Homo sapiens: one gene and its partner. The protein of the gene in region 2 purifies or fractionates together with the protein of the main gene of each other region. This does not show direct contact. Each region holds a gene or a part of one and is shown on either strand. Other genes may lie near its edges.

Region 1 (3,595 bases), on a different chromosome or scaffold from region 2:
GGCTGGTAGAGGACGATTTCCTGATGAAGGTGCTGGAGGGCATGGCCTTTGCTGGCTTTGTGTCAGAGCGTGGGGTCCCATACCGCCCTACGGACCTGTTCGATGAGGTGCACCTCCACCCTGCCCTCCCAGCCCCCTGCCCTGGCTCCGCCTGACCATGGCTTACCTAACCTCCTGCTTACCCCGCTAGCTGGTGGCCCACGAGGTGGCAAGGATGCGGGCGGATGAGAACCACCCCCAGCGTGTCCTGCGTCACGTCCAGGAACTGGCAGAGCAGCTCTACAAGAACGTACGAGGGTAGCAGGACGGGAGGGCGTCGTACCGCCTTGATCCCTGGGCCCCTGCCCCACACCTGCCGTCTCCCCACAGGAGAACCCGTACCCAGCCGTGGCGATGCACAAGGTACAGAGGCCCGGTGAGAGCAGCCACCTGCGACGGGTGCCCCGACCCTTCCCCCGGCTGGATGAGGGCACCGTGCAGTGGATCGTGGACCAGGCTGCAGCCAAGATGCAGGGTGCACCCCCAGCTGTGAAGGCCGAGAGGAGGACCACCGTGCCCTCAGGGCCCCCCATGAGTGCGTAATGAGGGAGGGGAAGGCAGGCCCCGAGCGTGGCCCAGGATGGGCGTGGGGTCAGGGGTCCGAGTGTGTGTATTCTGTCCCCGCAGCTGCCATACTGGAGCGGTGCAGTGGGCTGCATGTCAACAGCGCCCGGCGGCTGGAGGTTGTGCGCAACTGCATCTCCTACGTGTTTGAGGGGAAAATGCTTGAGGCCAAGAAGGTGAGGGCTGTGCAGGCTCCAGCCGGGCCAGGGCAGCGGGTTTCAGAGGAGACCCAGGCTGCACTTCACCCTTGTGAGTGCTGACGCTGCCCCAGGGCCTCCTCTGCCTAACAGACAGCTAGAGGTGGCTGGGCTGGCCGGAGGGTAGGTGGGCTCCAGGTCTCCTCTCTTGACCTCAGTGAGGGGTGGGTCGGGCCTGCGCGGGAGACCCAGCCAGGGAGATGTACTTCCATTTTTAGAAATCAGAAGGTTTCACTATTATGTTTCGTCTGTGTCCTTCCCCTTAAATTGGGTAGGCCCATACACGACCTGTTCTTTGTACTTGATGGAAAACAGAGCTTGCTCCCTCCATACGTGACCTGTTCCTTGCATCTTATGGAAACAGAGCTTTTTGCTCCTGCTGTTTTGCTCTCTGTGGTGCTCACTTAACGCCTCTGGGGTCTTTCATCATGGCCAGTTGGAGACTCTTGTTTTTCATTGGCTGTATGGTGTCCCTTTGGGGCGGCCAGTTTTGTGATGAACGTTGTAGCAATAGAACGCAAACTCCAAGGCTTTCTGTGGCCGGGCCTGTGCCAGGCGAGTCACTGAGCCAGCCAGGCAGCTGTGAGCCTGTGAGCAAGGGGGCCCGGCCCGCAAGGCCTCCCTCCGGAGCGCACCTCCCTGCCAGCTCACAGGTGCAGCATCTGCGTCCTTGTGTCTGGCCTGGTGAACTTGTACTTGTGGAGTTGTCGGGCCCACTGGAGGTTTTAGTCTTTATTGGTCGGCAAAGCCCCAGAGTCTGGCACACCCCACCTGAAAGGCATTTGGGTCTCCTGGACACCTGCTGCCCTCCCTGCCAGGGCCCCGAGTGGGTCTTCTCTGTGCCCTCAGCCCGTGTCTCCTTTCCCCACCCCCAGCTGCTCCCAGCCGTGTTGAGGGCCCTGAAGGGGCGAGCTGCCCGCCGCTGCCTCGCCCAGGAGCTGCACCTGCATGTGCAGCAGAACCGTGCGGTCCTGGACCACCAGCAGTTTGACTTTGTCGTCCGTATGATGAACTGCTGCCTGCAGGTGAGGCCTCTTATCCTGCTAGTGACATGGCTCATGGCGCATGAGCGGGAACAGGCGGGCAGACCCTGGTCTGTGAGTGAGAGTGGAGAGACGGTGCAAGAGACTCCTGTGCCAGTGGGCAGGGGTCCTCGGTCTGCAGGGAACAGGGTGGAGAGAACCATTGTTGGGGGCAGGTGCTGGGGCCTGGGGTCTCCTGATATTGAGCCTCTGAGGCAGCCTTGGGGAGCTGGAGCCAAGGGTGTCAGGTGCTGGTCTGTGGTGGTTATGGGGTGGTGGGGGCATGGTGGGAGGTGAGTGCTGCCTGGGAGGGGAGAGGTCCTGACGGTCTCTCGCTCTACCTGCAGGACTGCACTTCTCTGGACGAGCATGGCATTGCGGCGGCTCTGCTGCCTCTGGTCACAGCCTTCTGCCGGGTGAGTGCTGGCATGGCTGAGGTCTCCTTCCCAGCCCCCCCTTCCTGGTGGCTGAGGTCTCCTTCCCAGCCCCCCTTCCTGGTGGCCGAGGTCTCCTTCCCAGCCGCCCTTCCTGGCTGCATCCAGCTGACCTTCTCCCCTGGCTCCTGCAGAAGCTGAGCCCGGGGGTGACGCAGTTTGCATACAGCTGTGTGCAGGAGCACGTGGTGTGGAGCACGCCACAGTTCTGGGAGGCCATGTTCTATGGGGATGTGCAGACTCACATCCGGGCCCTCTACCTGGAGCCCACGGAGGACCTGGCCCCCGCCCAGGTGCGCAGGGACTCCCTGGGCTGGGGGCTGGGGGCTAGGGGCTGGGGCAGCGTGGCCCCGGCTCATGCGTGTGGTGCCGTGGCAGGAGGTTGGGGAGGCACCTTCCCAGGAGGACGAGCGCTCTGCCCTAGACGTGGCTTCTGAGCAGCGGCGCTTGTGGCCAACTCTGAGTCGTGAGAAGCAGCAGGAGCTGGTGCAGAAGGAGGAGAGCACGGTGTTCAGCCAGGCCATCCACTATGCCAACCGCATGAGCTACCTCCTCCTGCCCCTGGACAGCAGCAAGAGCCGCCTACTTCGGGAGCGTGCCGGGCTGGGCGACCTGGAGAGCGCCAGCAACAGCCTGGTCACCAACAGGTGAGGCAGGGACTGGGGGTTGGGCCCAGTGGAGGCGGGGCCGTGGTGGGCAGGGCCCATGCCCACAGTTTCTTCTCTGGCCCAGCATGGCTGGCAGTGTGGCCGAGAGCTATGACACGGAGAGCGGCTTCGAGGATGCAGAGACCTGCGACGTAGCTGGGGCTGTGGTCCGCTTCATCAACCGCTTTGTGGACAAGGTCTGCACGGAGAGTGGGGTCACCAGCGACCACCTCAAGGGGCTGCATGTCATGGTGCCAGGTACGGGGGTTTGGGCTGGTGATTCCCCCTTGGATGGGTGGGGCTGGGCACAAAGTGTGAGAACTGTCTTCCCCCAGACATTGTCCAGATGCACATCGAGACCCTGGAGGCCGTGCAGCGGGAGAGCCGGAGGCTGCCGCCCATCCAGAAGGTTTGCGGGGGCCGTTGGGGCTGCGGGGGCCCAAGGCCCGGGCTGCATCCTGAGCTCCTGCTCTTGTTTTCGAGCAGCCCAAGCTGCTGCGGCCGCGCCTGCTGCCGGGTGAGGAGTGTGTGCTGGACGGCCTGCGCGTCTACCTGCTGCCGGATGGGCGTGAGGAGGGCGCGGGGGGCAGTGCTGGGGGACCAGCATTGCTCCCAGCTGAGGGCGCCGTCTTCCTCACCACGTACCGGGTCATCTTCACGGGGATGCCCACGGACCCCCTGGGTGAGCCTGC
Region 2 (5,318 bases):
CTGGCCTCGGCGGGAAGAGGCCTGAGGCCCCCCCTGGGCCCCCGGACTGAGTGCAGCCGGGGCTGAGACAAGACAGATGGAGCGGCTGGCGTGCACCTGCAGAGCAGATCCATCAATTATTGACACTCTGTGAGGTGCATGAAGAATTCATGGGACAGGGGTGGGGACGGCAGGGACTTGTGACATAATTGCAGCCAGCTCACCAGAGCCACCTCCTGTGTTTTCAGGAATTTTGCCATCTGGTAGTTAAACGCAGCCATTATTTAACGTGGGAGAATATAAACTTATAGTTAAGGCTGGGCGTGGTGGCTCCCACCTGTAATCCCAGCAGTTTGGGAGGCCGAGGCGAGTAGATCACTTGAGGCCGGGAGTTAGAGACCAGCCTGGCCGACATGGCCAAACCCCGTCTCTACTAAAAATACACAAATTTGTATTTTTGTACAAATACAAATACACCAGCTGGGTGTGGTGGCATGCACCTGTAGTCCTAGCTACTTGGGAGGCTGAGGCTGAGGCAGGAGAATCGCTTGAATCCGGGAGGCAGAGGTTGCAGTGAGCTGAGATTTGGCCACTGCACTCCAGCCTGGGAGACAGAGCAAGACTCCATCTCAAAATACATACAAACATACATACATACATAAACTTATAGTTAAATAAAGTACATTTAAGCCAGGGGTGGTAGCTCACACCTGTAGTCCCAGCACTTTGGGAGGCTGAGGCAGGAGGATCCGTCTCAAAAAAAAAAAAAAAAAGGAATATAGGGAGCAGGGGAAGAGTCAAGGGAGCCAGGGAGTTGGTGCCTGGTCACCCATTTTGCAGATGGGAAAGCTGCCCCCATGCATGGGGCCTGCCAAGGGTCACAGCAGGGAGACCTCAGAGCTGTGGACGGACCTGGACAGAGGCTGTGGACAGGGCTGAGGCCTCCTGGCTGTTCCTGTAACAAGCGTGACACAGCCCTGCCCCAGGGCCTTTGCACAGGCTGTGCCCTTTGCCTGGAGCATCTTCCCGCAGACCCTGTCATTGCAGGCCCAGTTCAACTGGCCCAGCCTCTCCCTAGAGAGGCCCTCCTGGTTACCCTGAACTTCATCCCCCACCCCCGTGGCCCATATCTCTCTTCCTGAAATTAACTTGTTTGTTTCTATTTATTGGTTACCGGCACCTCCTCCTTCCAGCAGGGGAACAGTTTTTGCACCCAGGCTGGAGTGCAGTGGAACAATCTCGACTCCCTGCAACCTCCGCCTCCCAGGTTCAAGCGGTTCTCCTGCCTCAGTCTCCCGAGTAGCTGGAATTACAGGTGCTCGCCACCACGCCCGGCCGACTTTTTTTTTTTTTTTCAGTTGAGTCCGGGTCTCACTATGTTGGCCAGGCTAGTCTTGAACTCCTGGCCTCAATTGATCCTCCTCCCTCTGCCTCCCAAACTGCTGGGATTACAGTTATGAGCCACCGCACCTGGCCAATCATTGTTTTAAAGTGTACAATTTATAACCAGAAAGTTATGTGACCATCATAAATTTCTGGAATCTCTAATTCCAGAACATTCCATTACCACTCACCCCAAAAAAACCTGGTTCCCAATTTAGCAATCGCTTTCCATTTTCCCCTCTTCCAGTTTCCAGCACCCGCGAGTCCGCTTTCTGCCCTTGTGGACAGGCCTCTCCTGAACATTTTTTTTTTTTTGAGATGGAGTCTCGCTCTGTCACCCAGGCTGGAGTACAGTGACGTGATCTTGGCTCACTGCAAGCTCCGCCTCCCGGGTTCACGCCATTCTCCTGCCTCAGCCTCCCGAGTAGCCAGGATTACAGGTGCCCGCCACCGCGCCCCGCTAATTTTTTGTATTTTTAGTAGAGACGGGGTTTCACCGTGTTAGCCAGGATGGTCTCGATCTCCTGACCTTGTGATCCGCCCGCCTCGGCCTCCCAAAGTGCTGGGATTGCAGGCGTGAGCCGGTGCCCGGCCCTTCCTGAACATTTCATAGAAGTGGGATCACACACTTTGTGGCCTTGTGTGTCTGGCTTCTGTCACTGGGAATGATGTCCTCAAGGTGCATCCACGCTGGAGCTTGTGTGTGAGCCTCGTTCCTTTTATGGCTAGAGAACATTCCATTGTTTGGACCGATCTCATTTTGTTTATTCATTCACCCATTAATGGACATACGGACATTTGAGTTGCTTCCACTTGCAGGCTACCCTGGGTCACGCCGCTGTAAACTGTGACGTGCAAAACAAGTGTTTGCGTGGTGTATGCTTGTGTTTCTCTTGGGTAGATCCCCCAAAGTGGAATTGCTGGGTCCTATGGTAACTGTGTGTTTAGATGTCTGAGGAGCCGTCGGACTGGGTTTTTTTGTTTTGTTTTTTGTTTTTTGTGACGGAGTCTCGCTCTATCACCCAGGCTGGAGACCTCGGCTCACTGTCACTGCAACCTCCACCTCCCGGGTTCAAATGATCCTCCTGCCTCAGCCTCCAGAGTAGCTGGGATTACAGGTGCCTGCCACCATGCCCAGCTAATTTTTTTTGTATTTTTAGTAGAGATAAGGTTTCACCATGTTGGCCAGGCTGATCTCAACTCTTCACCTCAGGTGATCTGCCCACCTCAGCTTCCCAAAGTGCTGGGATTACAGGTGTGAGTCAGTGCACCTGGCTTTTTTTTTTTTTTTTTTTTTTTTCCTTTTGAGACAGGGTTTTGCTCTGTTGCTCAGGCTGGAGTGCAGTGGTGTGATCATAGCTCACTGCAGCCTTGACCTCGTGGGCTCAAGCGATTCTCCCCCTCTCAGCCTCCCGAGTACCTGGGACCACAGACCCGTGCCACCATGCCTGGCTAATTAAAAAAAATTTTTTTTTGTAGAGATGGGATCTCGCTATGTTGCCCAGGCTGGTCTTGAACTTCCCAGTTCAAGCAATCCTCCTGCCTTGGCCTCTTAAAGTGTTGGGATTACAGGTGTGAGCCACCTTGCCTGGCCCAGATGATTTTGTAATGAGGAGGCAGCTTGGGGTCTAGAAAGCCAGGGCCTTAGCAAGGCAGGGATGGGATCTGTTTTGATGCCTGCTGTATCCCCAGTGCCTCTGTGGTCTCTTCTGCAAAGCAGGCAACCTGGCCAGTACCAGGTGGGAATGACGAATAGGCACAGGTCGCTGGCTCAGGACACTGGGGTTTGGTTACAAGCTTCTGCCCCAGGACAGCTGGTGCTCCATAAATGCTCGTTGAGCCACTGAATGGGTGTTAACACCTGAATCCCAGAAGCTGTAGCAGGCTGTGTGTGTTTGTGACGATGGCAGGGTGCCCTGGCATTTGGAGGGCGATGCCCCTAGGCCCCAGGCAGTCCCTAGGAAGGCCCCTGCCCTGTAAGGGCTGATGCGGCCGCTACACCGCCTCCTGCAGGAAGGAAGACCCAGGTTTATTTTGGTCCTCGGCCTGTTCCCCTGGGAGAGCAGTCATCCTCCTGTCTGGCTGCCTGGATGGGAGCGTTTCTGGCAGAACAATGGGTCAGGGAGGAGGAAGGGGAAGGCCAGGCAGCTGGGCCGCCCCAGGTGTCAGCAGGTCCCGGGGCTGCCCCGGCCGTCTTAGGAGTGTGGGGGCCAGGAAGGGAGGCCACAGCTGCTTGCCCCCCATCCCTCTTCCTGTTGGCCTTGCAGGGGGCGGGGGTTGCTCTTGGGAGCCCAGGCCCTTCCTGAATCTGTAAACAGGCCTGACTCCCGTCCGGAATCAACTTCTTCAGCCTCAGGACTCACAGATGGGAAAGTCAAGGCCCAGCGAGGGGCACAGCCCTGCCTGGGGTCACGGAGCTCCCGAGATGGGCAGAAAGATGTGGGCTCCAGGGCCGATGGGGTCCAGGGGCCTCATCCCCAGATGCAGAGAAAGGCCTTTTCCTCTTCGAGTCCCCTCGGTTTATTCATCTATGAACTGGGGAGGCTGGACCCAGGGGTTCGGGAGTTTCCTCTTAGAATCTGCAAACATCCTTTTTTTTTTTTTTTTTTTTTTGAGATTGAGTTTTGCTCTTGTTGCCCAGGCTGGAGTCCAGTGGTGTGATCTCAGCTGACTGCAACCTACGCCTCCTGGGTTCGAGCGATTCTCCTGTCTCAGCCCCCAAAGTAGCTGGGACTACAGGCGCCCACCACCATGCCCAGCTAATTTTTGTATTTTTAGTAGAGACGGGGTTTCACCATGTTGCCCAGGCTGGACTCGAACTCCTGACCTCAAGTGATCCTCCCGCCTTGGCTTCCGAAAGTGCTGGGATTACAGGTGTGAGCCACCGCGCCCGGCCAGCTTTTTTTTTTTTGCACAGGGAATCTCACTGAGATAGAACTAGGTCTGCAAGTTCACAGAGCTGAGGTGGGCACGGAAGGGCGGAATTCCAGGCAGTGGTTGCAGCCTCTCGTCCAGAGGAAGCTCACAGCTTAGGGGGCATTGCGGTTTGGTCACAAGCTTCTGCCCCAGGACAAAGTTCGTTCCGATCTTCCCCATATTTCAGATGGGGAAACTGAGGCACATTGTTAAGTTGCTTGCTGCAGAGGCCAGAGCTGGGAGCAGGCCCTAAATATCAGGGTTGCCCTCTAAGACTCACGGCCAGTTGAGGGCGTTAGGTGGGGAAGGCACAGGGAGTTGGGGTTCAAGGGCGTTGAGAGCCAGTGGTTACTGTATTGCTGTGTGGTCTTGGGGAAGTGGCTCAGCCTCTCTGAGCCTTTGTGGTCTCTTCTGCAAAACAGGCAACCTGCCTAGTACATGGTGGCGATGACAAAGTGGGCACACATCGCTGACTCAGGGTCTGCCACGTGGCACTGAGTCAACAGCACCCCTCTTCTGGCCTAGGCCTGTGCAGAGCCAGGGTCTGGTGACCGAGGTCGGAGGGCAGGGGCGGCCCATCCAGCAATTCCCGTGCCTGCCCTGACCTCAGAGGGCGGCCGAGGGTTTGGAACTTCTCCCGGAGTCTGAACTCACACAAAGACCGGCTTTGTGGGGGCTCCTGGGGTAGGTGGGTGCCCACATGGCATTCCAAGGCTGGCAGCCTGGCGCTGGGGTGGGAGTGGAGGCTGAGCAGGGTCTGGGGCAGTGAGAGAGACCGGGGGCGGGTCTCAGGCCCTCCCTCCTCCGCCAGTTCTTCCACACTCCCCTCTTCATTCAGCAGATGTTTCTGGAGTCTGCAGGGACACCGTGGATAAGGAATTGGGCCCATGACCTCCCCTGTGGCCTGGGGTGAGGCAGACCAGTTGGGGTGCAGAGCTGGGGAGCAGAGGAGCAATGGGGATGCCTGGGGAACCTGCGGCTCAGAGGAGGCAGAGACTTGGGGGCCAAAGTGATGGGGATGTATAGTTTACCAGGGAAGA

What was found.
Region 1: the proteins of TNFAIP8L1 (region 2) and SBF1 purify together in Homo sapiens (affinity purification with mass spectrometry, with the first as the bait; one large-scale study listed by BioGRID). This does not show direct contact.

Annotation. Positions count from the first base shown.
Region 1 is NC_000022.11:50,461,513-50,465,107, reverse strand, and holds part of SBF1 (myotubularin-related protein 5), read left to right. Parts: coding exon 1-107; intron 108-190; coding exon 191-289; intron 290-369; coding exon 370-574; intron 575-666; coding exon 667-779; intron 780-1,675; coding exon 1,676-1,825; intron 1,826-2,169; coding exon 2,170-2,238; intron 2,239-2,390; coding exon 2,391-2,549; intron 2,550-2,634; coding exon 2,635-2,903; intron 2,904-2,988; coding exon 2,989-3,161; intron 3,162-3,238; coding exon 3,239-3,312; intron 3,313-3,389; coding exon 3,390-3,585; intron 3,586-3,595. UniProt on the Homo sapiens protein: Acts as an adapter for the phosphatase MTMR2 to regulate MTMR2 catalytic activity and subcellular location. Promotes the exchange of GDP to GTP, converting inactive GDP-bound Rab proteins into their active GTP-bound form.
Region 2 is NC_000019.10:4,644,972-4,650,289, forward strand, and holds part of TNFAIP8L1 (tumor necrosis factor alpha-induced protein 8-like protein 1), read left to right. Parts: intron 1-5,318. UniProt on the Homo sapiens protein: Acts as a negative regulator of mTOR activity.